Regions from separate parts of the Homo sapiens genome. Here region 1 is linked to region 2. The links come from fine-mapping of genetic effects on gene expression. Tissue or cell type: cerebellar hemisphere. Region 2 holds a variant in brackets; the other region holds the start of a gene. All regions are shown on one strand. Distances are between the middles of the regions.

Region 1 (5,149 bases), 160 kb after region 2:
TACAAAAACATAACAGATATTAATCATACCAATTTAAAAATAGTGGCTAACTCTGGGGAAGGAATAGTGTCAAGAAAAGCCTGAATAATTGATCCAGACTGAAGGAGAATTGAGCAACAAGCTAACTGGATGCAGCACATGATCTTTCTTGGCTGGGACGTTTTTGCTGTAAAGACATTGGAATAATTGGCAAAGTTTGAGTGGGGTTTCTAGGCAAAGGGTACACAGAAGTTTTTGTACTATTCTTGCAACAGTTTTCTTAGTTTGTAAATTGTTTCAAGTTAAAAAATTTGTTTTTAAAAAGAGGATGAAAATGAAAAATAGGAAACAGTTTCAGAGAAGAAATTGCCAGGATAGACCAATTGGTGGTGGGAAATAAGAGGAAATAATCAAAGGGGACTCAGATTTCTGGCTTAGGTGATTTGGTGTGTATGATTCAATTTATCAATGTAGGAAACCCAAGAAAAGAAGAATTTTCAGGAAAAGCAAACTATAACAGACTTGCCACTGGAAATATTGAATCTATGGATAAATAGTTGGAAATTTAGGCTGGGGGTGATGGTGTCACAAAAGAGCTTAGCACTGTAAACATCTTGATTTGATTACTTTTTTCACTTACTAAATCATTTGGGAATTCACTATGTTGCCTGTGTAAACCATAAAATATATAAAAATAAATAGGAAACGGACACTGCCCTTAAGGGACTGATATCTGGTAAGAGAAGTAGAATCAGTCTGTAGGCAAAGGGTAGAGACTGATGGAGCAAGTTCTAGAGGGTGACAAATTAGTTCTCAACCTTGGTCACACATTAAGAACACCTAGAGGAACTCCTAAAACATCCCAATGCCCAGTCCACACTCTGGGACTGGATCCAGGCATCAGTGGTTGCTTAAACTCTCCAGGTGATGCTGATGTGCAGCCAAGATTAAGGGAGCAGTGGCTCTACTCAGAACACCTGAGACACCTATTCCTTTGAAACATTTGGCAATGATGCAGGAAAGAGTGTGGAGAGAACAGGAGGTGGAAATAAGGAAATTTGGTTGAAGAGGCTTCTGCCAAACAGAGTGATGATTTATATTTTCTCTGTAAAGAAAGCGAATCAGCTGGGTGCGGTGGCTCACACCTGTCATCCCAGCACTTTGGGAGGCTGTGGCAGGCGGATCACTTGAGGCCAGGAGTTCGAGACCAGCCTGGCCCACATGGTGAAACTCTGTCTCTACTAAAGATATAAAAAATTAGCCGGGCGTGGTGATGCATGCTTGTAATCCCAGCTACTTGGAAGGCTGAGGCAGGAGAATCCTTGAACCCAGGAGGCAGAGGTTGCAGTGAGCTGAGATCACACCATTGCACTCCAGCCTGGGTGACACAGCAAAACTCTGTCTCAAAAAAAAAAGTGTCAAAGGCTAAGAATAAGGATATATGAAAATAAGGTAAGTCTTTTATGGAGAATGGGGAAACAGGATTACAGCTACAGAGGGTGCAAAAGAAAGAAGTAACATTGTTGTTTTCCCAAGACTGGGAAGATTGAAACACTTGAGGATGAGGATTCAGGGACACCACTGTGTCCACCATTAAAGAATTTCCCCTTTAATGGTGGACACGGTGGTGTGATCCTTTTGTAGAGACGAGCATAGGTTATGGCAAATATACCTACTTTAAAAACAGTGCTCTGGGAAGAGAGTAAGTGCTTTTCCACATAAAGATCTAAAATAGACAATAAATGAGAAATAGGGTTTTTTATTATATATTCATTTTTCCATATTTCTGGAAAATGAAACAGACATGGAGTATTTCAAAGCTGGGAGAGATCATTATATTGGAGTTACCTTAGAAAGAGGGGGCTGTTTCTGCCACCACAACAAAGAATGAAACAACACAAATATTTACGTTTTCTTCTTGTCCTCATAATGCTTTTACTGCACTCGTCTTTCAACCTTTAACATCTACTGCATCTGTGACTGTTGTTTCAGTAAAACACGGAAGCTTGAATGTAAGCTCATTTCATTGCCTGCTGCACAACCACACAAAACAGCATTTTCTTATTCTTGAAATATGATAGCAACGTCTCCTTCCATGCTTGTACCTGTTTTAATTCCTTTCAAGCAGAGGCTGTATCGTGAAAGATGCTTAAGAAGTTACTTGGAACGACAGGATTTGGAACGGATGTCACATCATATTCTCATTTGTTATTAAAATTAGTCACGCTTAATTGTTAAGGACTATCCTGTGTCGCTCGCCATCTTTGTGTCCTCCACCTGGCACTTTGCTTTCACACAGTAGGCACATAGCGTTGAGGTCCCGGAAGGTTGTCAAGTAACCGGCCAGGAGCTTGAGGGCAGGACATTGTCTCCGACACTTGATTCAGTGCCTGGCACACAGGAGGTATTCAATTATGCTGAATGAATGAGCAACCGGCTCGGTGGGGGACAGTAAACCCAACCCTATTCCGCGAACGTTTGCTGAGCGGCATCCAGGCCTCAGGGACCAAGTGTGTCGCGCGGTGCCATACCGTGACCGGGACCTGTTATTTCTAATGTCCAGATATTGTAATTCTATGCTGTAACTCCTATATTTCCTCTTAAAACAAAAAGAGAAATGTGGGTCGTGTTCGCTCTGGGTTCTCGTTAAGTGCAAGCATACAGAGGCGCCGAGACCCCGCGGCTCGCCCTCGCCGCTTCCTCCACAGGAGCCGGGCGGAGCTCCCGGCGCGCCCCGGGGCTGCGCCGCCGCAATCCTCAAGGGGTCGCTGTTCCCGCGATAACCTCGAGAAAGGCTCCGCCCCGCGGCCCGCGCTTGTTTTTCCCTTGGGACCCGGGTCCACACGGCGGGGTCGCCCGTCCATCTCCGGCTCGCCCGCGGGGCCCATCGTCGACGTTAGCGGCCGTTCTCCGAGCCGACTGACCCATCCTTGGCGCTGCCGCCGCGCGCTTGTTCTCCTCCCTCGCCCCGCCTTCATCCTCCCCGTTCACGGAAACGACAGCTGCGGCTGCGGGGCTGGCGCCGCCTCCCTCCACCTACCACGTCTGCCCTCGCCGCTCTAGCCCTGCGCCCCAGCCCGGCCGCGGCACCTCCGCCTCGCCGCCGCTAGGTCGGCCGGCTCCGCCCGGCTGCCGCCTAGGATGAATATCATGGACTTCAACGTGAAGAAGCTGGCGGCCGACGCAGGCACCTTCCTCAGTCGCGCCGTGCAGGTACCCTGGTGCTGGGGGGAAAAGGGGTGGCGGCGCCCGGGAAGGTTGAGGGAGGGGACCGCAGCTCGACGCGGCGCCCCCGGGCCTCGCCGACCACCCAGCGGGCCTGCTGCAGCCAGAGGCCTGGGAGATGGGCGCGGCCTGGTCCCCTCCCCGGGCCCGGCGGCGGATTTCTGCCCCGCTCCTGCCCAACCGCCGCTCCCTGGGAAGCGAGGCGGGGTGGGGACGGGGCCGGGAGCTTCCTCCCACCCCTGGGGAACACTAAGGCTGCACTGTCCGCCTTTCTGATACCACGACGTCAGTGCTCCTGTGGCCTCCACCCCGGGGCTGGCGGAGGCTTGCGAGTCCTTTGCGGTAACCGAGACACAGGCCATTCTTGCACTACCCCCCACCCTTTCCTTTCGTCTCTCACCCTCCCCTCGGAGTCCAAGAAGGGAGTTTCCTTTTCCTGTCCTTCAACCCAGAGAGCTGCCAACACAGTTCCCTCCGGCCCTCTTTCTCCCTGAAAGGACTGTCCTGGGCTTGGCAGCCCGCGGGGGAAATGGAGATCGCCAGTTGGCGTTGAGACTTTGCCAAGACCACAAGAAACCTAGGGTTGGGGGGTTTTCACTCTTTTTCAAAATGGGAAGCACCAGCTGTAGATCAAGGAGAGATGCGGGGATATTGTTATGGCTGTAGTCACAGTAGTATGTTTTAAATATACTTTAAGGGGAAAAGTTGACTACCTCTCGATATTCTACAATCAAGGAAGTGTCAGTACTAAGGAACTTGGGCCGTTTCCCACAGTCATCACCCATGTTATGCCAACTCAGTAAATCTGTGAACAGATGTAAATTTCACAACATGAATTATAAACAATCTGGTGTTTACGGTCACGGTAGCAACAACATTCTCTTTTGTAAAAAGAAAACAAAAATAATTTTCTAATATGCATACCAAATTGGTGCTGAAATGTAAATCTGTTCTGTGGCTTTACTACTTTCCTTGCCTTTGCCCCAATTTTGTTGGCACAGTTGATCCTACATTGCACTATCCCTGGCAAAAGAGTAGTAGAGCTAGAGCAAGGTAATAGCTGCCTATATTATGAAAAACCTGTCAAGCACTTTGTAATGCATTTGACATATTATCTCCAGTCTTTTCCATAACTTTGCCAGATAGATGTTATTAACCCCTTTTATATATGTGAGGAAGCAGCCTTACTGAGGTTAAGAAACTTGCACAACTAGTAAATAACCAGGTGCTGTCTGACCTAGTACTCCCAGCTGCTTTTTCTTCCGGGATAAGCATTCCAGATTTAAGATAGCTAGAATAATAGAATGCTGTGGCCTAGAGAGACCTTAAAAATCATCTGGTTCAATCTGAGCATTTCCATATCAACAAGCAAGTAACACTTTAGAGATGGTAAATTCCTTCTAGCTTTTGATTTCTAAGTTCTAAAATCTGCATGGTGAGTAATAAGCTAGCTGCCTTAACCCTTTTCTTCCCTTCCTTCCCTAAAATATGATATATTGTAGACGTTGAGCCTTTATAGTTAAAATAATGTTTTGATTTAAATTCACTAGCTTCTAATAGTTCAAAGACAAGGTGCAAGAAGAATGAGTGATTGAGGGTGTGAAATGAATTTTGATGTGTGAGACACTTGTACACTTTTAACATTGACTGCAATAGAGGACTAGAGCCCTTGGTATTTTTGTTTGTCCTAGTGCTCATTACCTATAATTCTAGATGCTTATGAGGATTTGACACTGTATAATGCTACTCTTTTAAATACAGTTAAATATGTTTCAGACGTATAACTCACACCCCTTAAAGAGGACACATTTACTAGAATTTAGTCTGATTTAAATTGTGGATAGACTCAATTTAAAAAATTAAATCTAGCAAAGCTCTCAAAATGTGTACTTCCCAAAGAATTTTAATTCCTTGTTTCAAATTCTTTAGGAAAAAGTTTTAAATT
Region 2 (5,149 bases):
ATCCGCTAAGCTTACAGCTTCTAAGAAGAAAGGGATGCCTTAAGCTCAGGGCACAGCTGATGTACAAATAGCAGCAGCAGAAGCAGCAGCTAGAGAGAGTAAGGAGAGGTTGGTGCAGCGCTGGTGAGCAGGAAGCCATGAGAAGAGATCACATGGGGCTAAAAGTCAAATGTCTCCAGTTTAAGTTTTGCCATTAAGTCAGTTACCTTCCTTGGACATCAGTGTTCTCATCTGTAACATCAGTGGTTGAATTAGATGGTCTCTAAGGTATTTTCCAGCAAGAAAATTCTCTCATATGGATATTCAAAATCTCAACTCCTAAATCCTGGATCTAGAAGATTTCCTGTTATGGTAAAAAGGGTACAAAAGTTCAGAGAAGTGAAATGACTGGCTGAATTGCTCAGGGGAGTCTTCATAAAGAAGTAGAAGTTAAGCTGGATAGAATTAGAAAAATGAGTATGGTCAAGGGGATAATAGTGGAAAGTAAAAATAATTTTCCACAAATTTTGACTAGAGAAAAAGATTTATCATAGATAATATTGGGAGATAAAACTAGAAATTATAATCTGGAACTACATTATGATGAATTCTGAATAGCAAGTAAAGGATTGTGCCAACCTGAAGGTAATGATGAACTCCTGAAGAACTTGAGAAAGAAAAGTTAGTATTATACATTAGATAATTTGATGTTGTGCAAGATTGGACTGGAAGATATTGCTAAGAAATCTTTAAGAAGACTGCCAGATTGTCCAGTTATGAGATGAAATGAGGGTTTTATACCATTTTGTTAATCTGCAGAGAGGTTAAACAGAGCACAGTTCTCTAACTGTGGAATGGAATAATCTCCAACAGTTTATCTATACATAAAGAACCTGTAAATTTCCCTTTGTTCATGTAAGACTATATTGCTCTTTATACATATTATCACCTCCCCTTGATGGGTTTGAATGTGCAAGTTTGGGAGTAGGAGCAGGAAAGAGCTGAAGCACTACTTTGTAGAACAGAGAGAAAGTATTTGGATTTCCAGAAATTTAACAATCCTAGAAGGAAGGGGTAAAAATCAGAGAATGAGGGAAGGCGAGGGGAAAACTGGACACTAAGTAGGAAGAAAGGCAGGCCAATGAGAAATCCTTAATGGTGGGATTCCCAAGAATGTACAAAGATAGGTGACTTCACATTGTTTCCTGTTTAGTGTATTTAGTATATTGAAATGGTAAAAACAGGGCCAGGCATGGTGGCTCATCCCTGTAATCCCAGCACTTTGGAAGGCCGAGGCAGGCGGATCACTTGAGGTCAGGAGTTCGAGACCAGCCTGGCCAACATGGTGAAACCATATCTCTAGTAAAAATACAAAAATTAGCCAGGTGTGGTGGCAGATGCTTGTAATCCCAGCTACTTGGGAGACTGAGGTAGGAGGATCGCTTGAACCCAGGAGGCAGAGGTTGCTGTGAGCCGAGATCGTGCCACTGTACTCCAGCCTGGGCAACAGAGCAAGACTCTGTCTCAAAATAAATAAATAAATAAATGAATAAATAAAATGGCAAAAACAAAAATGAAACACAGCAAACCCTGCCATTTTCCTTTTCAGAGTTTGGAACTGATTTGGAAATTGACATAGGAGTCAGACAGATTATAAAAATATTAGCTCCATATATGCTGAAGCTAAATTAATAAGTATGGCTTGACCTCAAGTCACAATTGGGATTTCTAATGCTTCTCTCCAAGCGTAGAGCTCATAGAGACACTCCCTCTTTCAAAGATACCTGCATCTGACTAGGTGCAAAGGGAATCCCAACCTCACGTAAGTTGGCACTGGGAATAGGAAAGAGAGACTGGTTTCTGGATCTGCCTCTAGAAGGCAAGACATGACCCTGAACCACATGTGCTTAGCACAAGGAATCCAGAGCACAAGGAATACACACACTACAGATAGAGAGATCCAAAAGGAAAGAGGAAGAAACTAAGCCTCACATAATAAATTCCAACTTATTTATATCTCAGGTTCTGTGTTGATAGTGTATAGCTTATAATAATTAAAATCCAATGTTGCCTTCAGAAAATTGTATAAGGATAAGTAACTCAGTTTTTCAGTTCAAAAAGAGGCTCTTTTCATTTTTTTAAATAAAAAGTTTACACATATTATTTCTTCCAGAAATAAAAAATGAAATCATCGACCACACATCTACCTCAGTAAGAATCCAAATTTTCTCATAAAGAAAATGACTATTACTCTCTTAGCATGTAATTGACTCATGATTTAAAAGTCCAGTGACAGGAGACCTCTCTGTTGCCATGGAAATCAGAAGTCCTGACTCTCTCTGGAGAATTCATTGTTAATGGAGCTAGACAGTAGAATGATGATTACCAGAGGGTGGGAACATGGGAGGATGAAGAGAGGTTGGTTAATGGGTACAAACATACAGTTAGGTAGAAGGAATAAGTTCTAATGTTCAATAGCAGCATAGTAGGGTTACTACAGTTAACGATAATTTATTGTATATTTCAAAAGAGCTAGAGGCCTGGTGCAGTGGCTCACACTTGTAATCCCAGCACTTTGGGAGGCCAAGGCAGATGGATCACCTGAGGTCAGGAGTTTGAGACCAGTATAGCCAACATGGTGAAACCTTGTCTTTACTAAATATACAAAATTAGC[C/T]GGCATGGTGCACAGCTATAATCCCAGCTATTTGGGAGGCTGAGGCTAGGAAAAAAAAAGCTTTAAAATGTTTCCAACACACACAAAAAAAGATAAATATTTGAGGTGATGGATATTCTAATTACCCTGATTTGATCATCGTTATGCATGTACCAGAATATCACATGAAGCTCATAAATATGTACAATTACTATTTCTCAATAAAAAAGAGAGAAAAACAAATATGGTGTTATTCTGATAGTAGTATCTGTGAAAACACAAGCTTGTTATGTTGGATACATTTTTCTATTACACACTAAACAAATACATAACAACTGATTTTTTTGTAACTCTTTTTTGACCCAGTGACAGACAAGGAAACTCATACTTTTTGAGTGACTCAAGTGAGCCTGTTTGCCTGAGTTGAATTGAATCTAGGTTTGACTCACTTAGCACAGTCTTTTCTGATTTATGACAAGCCAGCTTCTGCTGGAATGTCTACCTGAGGTTGGGTTGATGGAGGCAGTGGCCCTTATAGCTGGACCAGCTGACCTGGAAACTGTATTATGTAGACTAGTAATGGAAGGGGGTGTCTCTGAGGCCACCAGAGCAGCTTCCCACTTTCCTCTTTTAGAAGAGTATTAGAAACTCAACCAGGGGGATAGATGGAAAACAAGACAAGGATATACATTTGTCTCCAATGTCGAGGTTCCTGTGACACCAGGAAAAAGTAGGGAGAGACTGTTATAAATAGGCACCTTTTTTCACCAGGCTGCATGTGCTCATTGCCTGAGGGGAGCTTCTTCTAACTGCTTTGGCAAAGAGGAATTCTCTCCCAAATGTATAACTCAGAGTTTCCTGAGTTTTTTAAGGTTATAATAGCACCTCCTCAAAATAAATACTCCCGCAAACAATAGAGGGGATCTAAGTCCATCAGGCTTCTTCAACATTTCAAAGGCCTTGGACAAGCTTCTGTTTAGGCATTGTGATAAGCTGTTATTTTGGTTAAAATGATAATCATTCATTTATTCATTTAGTCAACGAGTCAGAAGGGATTTCCTGAACACAAGTTCTATGGGATGGGATCATGCTTGGTTTTCTTGGAGCCACCAAAGCTGGAGTTCAGGGAGAAGCAGGGAGCAGGAGGAAGGGAGGGTCAGTGAGGGCAAGACTGCATAGGATGTATTTGTTAATACCCAGTCTATTCACTCCAGATAATCACAGTTTCCCAGAGCTGCTCCTTTTTATAAAAACTTACTACATTACTTGCCTAGCAAAACAGCATTGCCTTGTGATGGAGAGATTAAATCCATGGGCTCTGGGATAAGAATGCTGGGTTCAGATCCTGACTTTACCAGTTACTAGCCATGTGATATTGGCAAGTTACTTAAATCTGTGTGCCTCAGTTCCTCCATACATAAAATGAAGGTAATATGCATACTTGCCTTACAGAGTTGCAGTGAGGGTTAAGTGAGACAATCTGTGCTCTGGTAAGAACTGAATAAATGTAAACTATTAATGTGATTCACTCTGCCTCAATAGTAACCAGCAAACTACCAGATAAAGTTTTTGATGTGCTTGTATGGAAATAAATTTTATTATTTCTTTACTGGACAGTATTTTTTAGGTAAATAATTTGATTGCTAAATTTATCAAAGTCTTTAAAATCTTTAATTTGGACCTCAAACCCATCTTAACTAATTTGCTGTTATTTACATTTAACTATCTTATCTCTTCCATTATTTATACCATTGTAATGCTGATAAATTGCTTTGTAAAAATAGAAGACATTAGTATTACTGTATCTGTTCATTTTATTATGGATTTTTATTAATTTTCACATTCTACTCTACAGAAAATATAAAGTATATGTCTATGTTTAGGAAATTCATCAAAATTAGAAAGTATAGAAAATGTGTCCCCAACATACTTAAGGTAATAAAAGCCATCTATGACAAACCCACAGCCAACATTATACTGAACAGGGAAAAGTTGAAAACATTCCCCTTGAGAACTAGAACAAGACAAGGATGCCCACTTTCACCACTTCTATTCAACATAATACTGGAAGTCTTAGCCAGAGCAACAAGACAAGAAAAATAAAGGGCATCCAGATTGGTAAAGAGGAAGTCAAACTGTCACTGTTTGCTGATGACATGATCATATATCTAGAAAACCCTAAAGACTCATCTAAAAAGCTCCTAGAACTGGTCAATGAATTCATCAGAGTTTTGGGATACGAAATTAACGTACACAAATCAGTAGCTCTCCTATATACCAACAGTGACCAAGCTGAGAATCAAATCAAGAAGTCAACCCATTTTACAATAGTGCAAAAAAATTAAAATACTTAGGAATATACTTAACCCAGGAGGTGACAGACTTCTGCAAGGAAAACTACAAAACACTGCTGAATAAATCATACATGACACAAACAAATGAAAACACATCCCATGCTCATGGATGGATAGAATCAATATTATGAAAATGATCATACTGCCAAACACAATCTACAAA

What was found. PIP is the estimated chance that this variant, and not a neighbour inherited with it, causes the effect.
Region 1: it holds the start of CLCA4-AS1, and the variant in region 2 is fine-mapped to the expression of CLCA4-AS1 in cerebellar hemisphere (GTEx, PIP above 0.99). The same link has a PIP of 0.9 or more in hippocampus.

The regions. Positions count from the first base shown.
Region 1 is chr1:86,701,780-86,706,928 of GRCh38, forward strand. CLCA4-AS1 (CLCA4 antisense RNA 1) reads right to left here and starts at 2,714. Exons shown (of 5, transcript NR_135837.1): 1 at 1,828-2,714. It overlaps SH3GLB1 (SH3 domain containing GRB2 like, endophilin B1), which reads left to right and starts at 2,797. Exons shown (of 9, transcript NM_016009.5): 1 at 2,797-3,192. The coding sequence starts at 3,121. RefSeq lists enhancers at 2,001-2,070, 2,635-3,136 and a silencer at 2,961-3,450.
Region 2 is chr1:86,539,765-86,544,913 of GRCh38, forward strand. No RefSeq gene overlaps it. Among named protein-coding and RNA genes, the nearest start is that of CLCA4, 4.7 kb to the right of the region's middle. The variant C/T (reference allele first, on the strand shown) is at 2,654.